Regions from separate parts of the Homo sapiens genome. Here region 1 is linked to region 2. The links come from fine-mapping of genetic effects on gene expression. Tissue or cell type: monocytes after interferon gamma. Region 2 holds a variant in brackets; the other region holds the start of a gene. All regions are shown on one strand. Distances are from middle to middle.

Region 1 (5,000 bases), 27 kb after region 2:
TAAGTATTGGTACATTTAAGAAAAAACTGTATATTGTGAAAAAATGTTTGGCTTTTATAATTGTAATTTTTTAAAAAAAGAATATTTACCATGATTACAGCTGCACTCGCTAAAGTTTTTAAGCAAAATCTATTCTATGTGCTCTGGGAGGTTAAAAGAAAAAAGTGTTTCTATACTTCACTGGCATGCTTTAAATTGTATTTTATTTTTAAATTAAATTAATTTATTATTTATTTTTTGAGACAGGGTCTCGCTCTGTTGCTCAGGCTGGAGTGCAGTGGTGCAATCTCTGCTCACTGCAAACTCTGCCTCCCTGGCTCAAGCTATCCTCCCACCTCAGCCTCCTGAGCAGCTGGTCCAATAGGCACATGCCACCACTCCCAGCTAATTTTTGTTCTTTTGCAAGAGACAAGGTCTCACCATGTTGCTCAGGCTGGTCTCAAACTCCTGGGCTGAAGTGATCCACCTACCTCAGCCTCCCAAAGTGTTGGGATTACAGGTGTGAGCCATTGCGCCCGGCCTAAATTGTATTTTCTTTCTTTATCCTTTTTGTGTATTTGTATTTTATTCTCTTCCCTTAACTTTGCCAGTGAACTCTGCAAACAGCTGCTCCCTGACACTCTCACAGTTATTAATGTGAATTTTTAGTCTTTGTGAATTTGAACAAATGACTATTTTTCTCTTAACTGGTTTCTGATTGATAAAAGCTCAGATTATCTTATCATCTAATACTTTCTGACCTAAACTCGGTACTTTTGTTGATGAAAGTCAATCCCTGTAAGTTAGTCACATTTTCCTCACACACCCCACCTTTTTTTTTTTTTTTTTTTTGGCAGAGGGCAAATATAGAGATGCCACAGTTCTCAGCTGGTGAAACACTGTACTGCTCACAATCTAGCTCTAACATTCTGGCTTGCTGAATAGATTGATAGGTAGGCAGACAGACAAATAACTAGCTCAACAATTCTGTTGCTTCTTGTATTTATTATGATAGCACAATTATTGATTGGGTTTTGATCAGTAGAATAAATAATTAGTACAAATTGGTTTCTAGTGTGACTTTCTTTGCCACCTCTTATTTATACCTGGCTTCGCTAGTATTTCTTTGCCTGTGTGGCATTTTCATCTATTCTCTTTGTTATGTTGATATTTAAGTCCCAGAAAAGAGTGGGTAGGAACCAGAGTAGCTCTCAAGGTGACAGGCAAATCTTCTAAGTGAAAAAAACCATTTTTCACTTTTATTAATTAAAGATTTGCATTGTTTTTGCTGCTTTCTTTTCACAGTTCAAACAGACAACAATATCAGTGTTACTATAGTTATTTATTTTTTTTGAGATGGAGTCTCGCTCTGTCACCAGGCTGGAGTGCAGTGGCGCAATCTTGGCTCACTGCAATCTCTGCCTCCTAGGTTTAAGTGATCCTCCTGCCTCAGCCTACCGAGTAGCTAGGATTACAGACGTGCACCACCATGCCCCGCTGATTTTTGTATTTTTAGTAGAGACGGGGTTTCGCCATGTTGGCCAGGCTGGTCTCAAACTTCTGACCTCAAGTGATCCGTCCGCCTCGGCCTCTCAAAGTGCTGGAATTATAGACTGTGAGCCACCATGCCTGGCCCAAATATGTGCATTTAAAGCTACAAATTTTCCTTTTACACAGTGTCACTGCATTCCACAAATTTGATATGTTGTATTATTATCTTTTATTTCAAATTATTTTATTTTTATTATTTTTTATTTTTGAGACAGAGTCTTGCTCTGTCGCCCAGGCTGGAGTGCAGTGGCTCCATCTCGGGCACTGCAACCTCCGCTTCCCGGATTCAAGAGATACTCGTGTCTGACCTCAGGTGATCCACCTGCCTTGGCCTCCCAAAGTGTTGGGATTACAAGTGTGAGCCTCCGTGCCCGGCCTCAACTTATTTTTAAATTTCCATTGATCTCTTCTTTGACCTAGAGATTTGGAATTATGTTGCTTAATTTCCAATATTTCCGGAATTTTCTGGCTTGTTTGGGTTGATTTCTAATTTTAATTCTATTGCGGTTAGAGATGATACTCTGATTTCAATCCTCTTAAATTTGAGGCTCACACTGAGGATTAAGTATAAAAAAATTTTTTTTGATACCTGTTTCATGGACTCGCCTCACAAACTTCTGTTTTAAGGTGGGGTAATTATAGTGCGTTCAGGGATGGATTTTTCTTCTGCTTTGGTTATGCATAGAGTGCACTGTGGCCCTTCAACACTATACTCTGAAATCCCACACAGTATTTTCCTCATCTGGAGGTCCTATAGGCTTACACTAGGGAGGAGGATCCAGTTCAGGCCAGCGTAGTCTTCAGCTGCGCCGTGGGACTTTCGGGGGAGCGCCTTTGCCCTCTCAGAACGGCTGGGCGGAACGGTGGGTTTGTGAGCCCTCCAGGCTCAGGGTGGGTCGCTCAGGGGCCATCTGGGGACTTTGGGAAGCAATGAAAGTTGTACCCTAGGATTTTTTTCTACTGGTCTTCTCTTCAGAGGCGAGAAAGCCAAGTTAAGAAAACCCAGACTCAGAAGGAGGTGGAGCGGGACTGCGTTCAGGCAAGGTGGCAGAACGCCTCGCCGTGGACGAAGAGAGCACATCTCTTCTTGCGAGGCCTAAGGAAGTAGGGCTCCCACTCGCCTCGGCAACCCAAGGACCCAGCCAAGGAGAGAGCCTCCAGATGAATCCTTCCTCTCCTCCTTCCTTCCCAGCCGCTCAAACTTTCACAAAGAGGAACTGGGTGCGGTAAAGAGGCCGGACACGGAACCGCTCGTCCGGTGACCGAAGAGACGGCGAGGAGGAGCCCGCGAACCCGCCTCTGTTCAGGCCCCGCCCACTCGACGTAATTTGCCCGCCCCTCTCCACCCTCCGAAGGGTGGAGCCTGAGGCCCCGCCTCCAAGCGGCCTCTCCCCGGAGTGCCTGGCGGCCAGCAGGGCGGGGCAGGAGGCTGGGAGAGGGACGGGTGCGGGGGTGGGGGAGAGGAAGGGAGCGGTCACGTGTGAGGGGCGGCCCGAGGTCACGTGACGGAGCGCCGGAGCGGAGGGAGCCGGGGCTGGGAGTTCTCCTGAGGGAAGAGGAGTGGAGTAGGGGGGACGCGGCGGCGGCGTTGACAATGGTGAGTGCGCGGCGGCCAGCGCGCTCGCCTCCCGCCCTCGTCCCGGAGCGCGCGGCGGGCCGGCCAACCGCGGGCCGGGCGTCGCCGGAGGAGGGGACGGGGGAGCAGGGCGGGGAGCGGGGTTAGGCCTGTCGGGCCACCCCTGGGTCTGGGAAAAGCTGGCGGCGCCACCTCTTCCCGGTCTCGGCGAGGCCCGAGCACCTACGGGCGGCGGCGTGCTCTCCTGGCCATGTCGGAGCCTCTGCCCGCGTTCTTCGACTGCTTGTTGGGGCTCTGGCTGGGGACTCGGACCCCGCCTCTGCGGGGGCTGGTCGCCGCCTCCCCTTCCTAGGTAGCCAGTCCCTGTTCTCCTCCCGGGCAGCCTCTCTTCCATCCAGGTGGGGCGACCCGGGAGCCCCCCACCTCCGGACTCTTCGGGGGACTTGGGCACTCAGTGTGTCACGAACTTGATAAACTCTGATATTTTAAAACCTGACTATGGTGACATTCTTTGATTTCATGACCCCAGTTCAGGCTTTCTGTTGACACTTGTAAAATGGGAGAGAAAAATAAAAGGACGTTGGAATGGGGGATATCTTTAACTCCAGAGACACCCGTTTGGTGCCCGCCGTTTTAAGCATTGGCTCTCATTTCCGTCCGCAAGCTATTTCGCTGAACTTAACGCTCTGGGTTGTTGAAACGGCCTATGAGGCAGAGGAGGGAGGGGAATCAGTGCTCTCACCACAGTCCGCGGAAGCACTAGCCTGGGCATTGTGGTATTTAGCTGGGTGTCGGCAGTCTCTAGGTTAGATCTCATTTTACCCATTTTCTGGTAGTAGTCGTCAGTTCTCTTCATTTAGCGCCTACTGTATGCTCTCCTAATACTACCTGCTCTTCCCAAAGCTCACTGATTCAATAGACTGCTTGAGACTTTTGGCTTAAAAGGCCGAGCCAGGTATATTTTTAAAAAGCTACTTTGAATAAATAACTTTTAATTTCAGTAATGATGTTGCTTTCAAAACAAAACAAAACAAAATCCAGACATTCATGTTCATTCTTAGAGCTTTTTTTCTTTCATTCAACAAATAATTGCTCAGGTGTGCCTAGGGGACCCCAGTAAAATGGAAACAGCGCCTACCTGCTCTCGTAGCTTACAATGTAGGGAGAGATAAACATTTATTTGTGTAAATTATTTGTTTAACGTGGAAATTAGAATTGTGACAGATACTAAGAAGGAAGTATTGGGGGACCTTGCCTAGTCAGTGTTAGGGCAGGCTTCTTTAATTGAATATCATTTGAAAAGAAAACTTAAAAGGTCCTCCTATTTTTTGCTTACATTTGTAATTATTACTTTTAATACGCTTTTTTGAATTATGTTCAAGAGCAGTTTATATTTTCAAGTTACCCAAACAGAAACTAAATTGTAAAACTTTAAAACACTGAAATGGTCACAGATGTAATATATGTATGAAAATTTGCTGTTTCATTGCTTGTGTATGGGCTAAGTGAATGAATTTTGAGAGTCAGCCTTCCACCTCAGAAATGCAATGAGTTGCATTTCTTTACATCCACTGGACTTAGTGAAATTCCTTCAGTGGGGACTAAAAAGTTGCCTTTTTATGTATCTACCATGTATTTTTGCTAATTGGTAATGCTCAATATTGGGTTCAGAAATTATATGAAAAATCCTAAATTAACCTAAAGTCAGTGATAGGAGGTTTAGGCCAAGATTAGAAAACTATAAAAACAATTGCTAGCATGTTTTTATAGTCATATATATTGCAGTCCAGTTATTTAAAAGCTCAAGAGTTTTAACTTGCATATTAATAGTTAATCCTGAAAATCGCAATATTCCAAATGCGCCCTTGAAGATATCTTTACCAAAAGAAGTGAG
Region 2 (5,000 bases):
GTTTTTAGAGGAATATTGTTTATTATAGCAATTTAGAAAACAAAATGAGAAAAAAAATCACCAAAGATTCTACCTCCAGTTATTTTTGTGTATTTCCTTCCATTTTTCCCCCCATGTCTGTTTATATAATTGAAACTATTATTCATGCAAAGAGGTATTCTGATTTTCTCAGTTATTTTTATTTATTTTTAATTTTGTAAATAAACTTTTTTCTTCTGAGACAGTCTCGCTGTGTCACCCAGGCTGAAGTGCAGCCGTGCAATCTTGGCTCACTGTGACCTCCCAGTCTCAAGCAATCTTCCTGCCTCAGCCTCCTAAGTAGCTGGGACTGCAGATGTGTGCTACCACATCCAGCTAATTTTTAAAATCTTTTTTCTCTTTTTTGGTAGAAATGGGAGTCTCTCTATGTTGCCCAGCCTGTATTGAACTCCTGGGCTCAAGTGATCCTCCCACCTCAGTCTCCCAAAGTGCTGGGATTTCAGGCATGAGCTACCACACCCAACCTAATTTTTATTTTTATTTTATTAAAAAAAAAAGTTTTTGCCTACCCGCCTCTCACCCTCTCACTCATTTTTAAGTATAGGTTTTTCTACAATGCCACATTGTCTTTTCCATAAAAAGTACTTTCGGCCGGGTGTGGTGGCTCACACCTGTAATCCCAGCACTTTGGGAGACTGAGGCGGGTGGATCACCTGAGGTCAGGAGTTCGAGACCAGCCTGGCCAACATGGTGAAACCCCATCCCTACTAAAAATACAAAAATTAGCTGGATATGATTGTGGGCACCTGTCATCCCAGCTACTCGGGAGGCTGAGGCAGGAGAATCGCTTGAACCTGGGAGGCAGAGGTTGCAGTGAGCCGAGATTGTGCCACTGCATCCCAGCCAGGGCAACAGAGCGAGACTTCATCTCAAAAAAAAAAAAAAAAAAGTACTTTTCTTCATTTGGTTAGTATTCTCTTATGAGTTGATGCCTTGTAATTTATCTGAATGTTTTCCATTATTTTGTGGTGAGCTTTAAAACTACCCTTCCTGACTTTCAAGAATCCTAGACATGCTCCTTCTTGCTAGGTAATTATTAGTTGCACTCATTAGAATAAAGTATATGCTTGGAGTGGGGAGGAGATGAACTTTTTGAAGGGCGGTGAAGTATTTCTCACCACCAGGCCTTTGTCTTTGCTAAACTGAGGAAGGAAGATTTTATTTCATTAGCTAACAAAGAACCTCCTATATAGGCCGGGCATGGTGGCTCACGCCTGTAATCCTCACATTTTCAGAGGCCAAGGTGGGTGGATTGCCTGAGCTCAGGAGTTTGAGACCAGCTTGGGCAACATGGCAAAACCCCATCTCTACTAAAAATACTAAAAATTAGCTGGGCGTGGTGGTGAGTGCCTGTAATCCCAGTTACTCCAGAGGGTGAGGCAGAAAAATTGCTTGAACCCGGGAGGTGGAGGTTGCCATGAGCCGAGATCGTGACAGTGCACTCCAGCCTGGGCGACACAGCAAGACTCTCTCTCAATAAAATAAAATAAAATAAATACATAAATAAATCTCCTATATAACCTCATAATATCAGATTTGGAGCCTTTTCCATAGAAATGAAATTCAGAAGAAGCTGAGACTCAGATATTCCAAGCTGCCTGGTGCTCTGTGAATAGAGGAGACTTGTTCTTGTGAAATCTGAGTGCAAAGACACAGGACAAATTGTTATCTACTTTTCATTCCTAAGGATACTGTATGGCCCTAAAACACAAGAACTAGAATTCTGTGATACCACGGGTACTCCACAGTGTGTTCCTTCCCCTTTCTGAACCTGATTTGACTCATCTCTATGAAAAGATGTGGGCTTTGGGGTCAGATGTGGGTTGGAATCCTAGCGCCTGTGTGGCTGCAATTTTCTTTTGTGTAAAATTGAGATAATAGTACAAAAGTAACAACAGTTAATATTATCAAGTGCTTACTGTGTGCCTGGCACTGTGTTAAATTCTCTAAGTGTATTTTCTCATTTAATTTTTGTGATAGGCTTATGACACTATTAGTATCTTCATATTACAGTGAGGGTTCAGAGAAGTTAAGGTTCCATAACTAGTCAGCAGACCTGGGACTTCACTCCAGGCAGCTGATTCCAAAGCCTATTCTAACTTTAAACTGCTACTTTTTGGAGTGTTGTAAGAAGGACAATTTATATAAAATGTTGGCACATAGTGGGTGCTGCTGTTATATGAATGGGCACAAAATCTGTCTACATTTTGCCTTTTACCAAATTTAGAATCTATTTAGTTAAAACCTTCTTAGGGCGGGTGGGGTGCAGTTGCTCATTCCTGTAATCTCAGCACACTGGGAGGCCAAGGCAGGAGGACTGCTTGAGCCCAGGTGTTTGAGACCAGCCTGGGCACATAGTGAGACCCCCATCTCTCCAAAAAACAAACAAACAAACAAAAACAAAACAAAACTAGCTGGGCGTTGTGGTGCCCCTGTATTCCCAGCTACTCAAGAGGCTGGGGTGGGAGAATGGCTTGAGCCCAGGAGTTCAAGGTTGCAGTGAGCTATGATCACAGTACTGCACTCCAGCTTGGGCAGCCGACTGAGACCCTGTCTCGAAAAAAAAATAAAAATAAAAACTTCTTAGGACAGAGTGATTAGAAGCTGTGTAGTAGATACTTAGTAACAATGTGGGTTCCTCGGGCAGGTTATCCTACGCGGAGAGCCAGGTACCAATGGGTGCGCTGCAATCCAGACAGTAATTCTGCAAACTGCCTTGAAGAAAAAGGACCAATGTTCGAACTACTTCCAGGTGAATCCAACAAGATCCCCCGTCTGAGGACTGACCTTTTTCCGTAAGTGGACTTTTCTCTAATTAATTAATTAATTACTTATTTATTTGAGACGGAGTTTCACTTTTCTTGCCCAGGCTGGAGTGCAATGGCGCAATCTTAGCTCACTGCAACCTCCGCCTCCTGGGTTCAAGCGATTCTCCTGCTTCAGCCTCTGGAGCAGCTGGGATTTCAGGCGCCTGCCACCATGCCCAGCTA[A/ATTTTT]TTTTTTTTTTTTTTTTTGAGACGGAGTCTCAGTCTGTCGCTCAGGCTGGAGTGCAGTGGCGCAATCTCGGCTCACTGCAAGCTCCACCTCCTGGGTTCACGCCATTCTCCCGCCTCAGCCTCCCGAGTAGCTGGGACTACAGGCACCCGCCACCACGCCCGGCTAATTTTTTTGTATTTTTAGTAGAGACGGGGTTTCACCTTATTAGCCAGGATGGTCTCGATCTCCTGACCTAGTGATCCGCCCGCCTTGACCTCCCAAAATGCTGGGATTACAGGCGTGAGCCACTGCGCCTGGCCTAATTTTTTGTATTATTAGTAGAGACGGGCTTTCATCATCTTGGCCAGGCTGGTCTCAAACTCCTGACCTCAGGTGATCCACCCACCTTGGCCTCCCAAAGTGTTGGGATTACAAGCATGAGCCACTGTACCCGGCCTTTTCTCTAATTTTAAAGTGTCTGTAATTTCACAACCTCTTGGCACAGATGTGGGAGTGTTTTTCTTCAAGCTGTCCAGAGTGTTTTGCTTCGAGCTCTTGCTTTGGTAGTTTGGCTCTTACTCTGCAGTACATGGTAAAAGTGTACTGTATATACTGGCATATGACATGTGCGAGTATACATGATTCACCTATGTTTTTGAAATTTTTTTTGTGGATGGTAGAGAGGAGCATTGAGGACTTTTCATCAACAGGTATTGAAAATGATTGAACATTGTTTTATTTGTGTAAACAGAACACACTATATATAAAAATCCAATAATTAACTGAATGGATAAGCAAAATGTGGTATAAGCATACAAAGGAATATTATTGGGTCATAAAAAGAATGAAGTACTGATACATGCTACAACATAGATAAACCTTGGAAACATTATGCAGAGTGAAGGAAGGCCAGACACCAAAAGCCACATATTGTATGATTCCATTTAGATGAAATGTCCAGAATAGGCAAATCCCTAGAGGCAGAAAGTAGATTAGTGGGTTACAGGGGCTGGGGAAAGGGAGGAATAAGGAGTGACTGCTAATGGGTATGAGGGTTTTTTTTGGAGGAGGTGATTAAAATGTTCTTCTGCCAGGTGTGGTGGCTCATGCCTGTAATCCCAGCACTTTGGGAGGCCGAGGCGGGAGGATTGTTTGAGCCCAGGAGTTTGAGGCCAGCCTGGGCAACATAGTGAGACCCTATCTCTATTTCAAATACATTTTTTATATTAAAAAAATGTTCTTCAAGTAGTTGGTAATTATTTTTAAAAATGGCCAGGTGCAGAGGCTCATGCCTGTAATCCCAGCACCTTGGGAGGCTGAGGTGGGAGGATCCCTTGAGCCCAGGAGGTTTGGGACCAGCCTGGGCCATACAGCAAGACCCTGTCTCTACAAAAAATACAAAAATTAGCTAGGCATAGTGATGTGCACCTGTGGTCCCAGCTACTCGGGAGGCTGAGGTAGGAGAATCTCTTGAGCCTATGTTGAGCCTGCAGTGAACCCTATTTATGCCATTGCACTCCAGCCTAGGCAACAGAGTAAGACTCTGTCTCAAAAAAAGAAAAAAAAAATTAGGGAAAGGAAGAATAATTAGCCAAGACTTGTAAAACAAAAATCAAATCTCTTCTTTTGATCACATAAAACTTGCTTTAAACTTGCAAAAAAGACCTGATATAAATTCATAAGTAACAAAAAATTGAATTATATTAGAAACCATTAATTCAATGAATACTAAAGCTATGTAGGATGTAGCAAAATATACATATTAAGAAAAGGATTATCATAAAAGTTTTAATCTCCAGGCTCAAACCTAGAAAATCACTCTCCTCAAAGCCAGGGTTAATCATCATGCTCCAAACCAGGTACATTTCACATCACTTTGGGATCCTGGCAACTTTCTCTTTTGTTTTTTTTTTTTTTTGAGACAGGGTCTCCTCTGTCACCCAGGATGGAGTGCAGTGGTGTGATCATAGCTCACTGCAGCCTCGAACTCC

Which allele goes with the higher level. Alleles are on the strand shown, and positions count from the first base shown. SD is a standard deviation of normalised expression in the study named.
For the expression in monocytes after interferon gamma of the gene that starts at base 3,025 in region 1, allele ATTTTT in region 2 goes with a lower level than allele A (large effect, 0.89 SD a copy in Fairfax 2014).

What was found. PIP is the estimated chance that this variant, and not a neighbour inherited with it, causes the effect.
Region 1: it holds the start of VPS26A, and the variant in region 2 is fine-mapped to the expression of VPS26A in monocytes after interferon gamma (Fairfax 2014, PIP 0.95).

What each region holds. Positions count from the first base shown.
Region 1 is chr10:69,121,154-69,126,153 of GRCh38, forward strand. It overlaps VPS26A (VPS26 retromer complex component A), which reads left to right and starts at 3,025. Exons shown (of 9, transcript NM_004896.5): 1 at 3,025-3,127. The coding sequence starts at 3,125. RefSeq lists enhancers at 2,259-2,618, 3,483-3,989 and a silencer at 2,879-3,278.
Region 2 is chr10:69,094,398-69,099,397 of GRCh38, forward strand. SRGN (serglycin) reads left to right here. Exons shown (of 3, transcript NM_002727.4): 2 at 2,687-2,834. Among named protein-coding and RNA genes, the nearest start is that of SRGN, 8.8 kb to the left of the region's middle. The variant A/ATTTTT (reference allele first, on the strand shown) is at 3,030.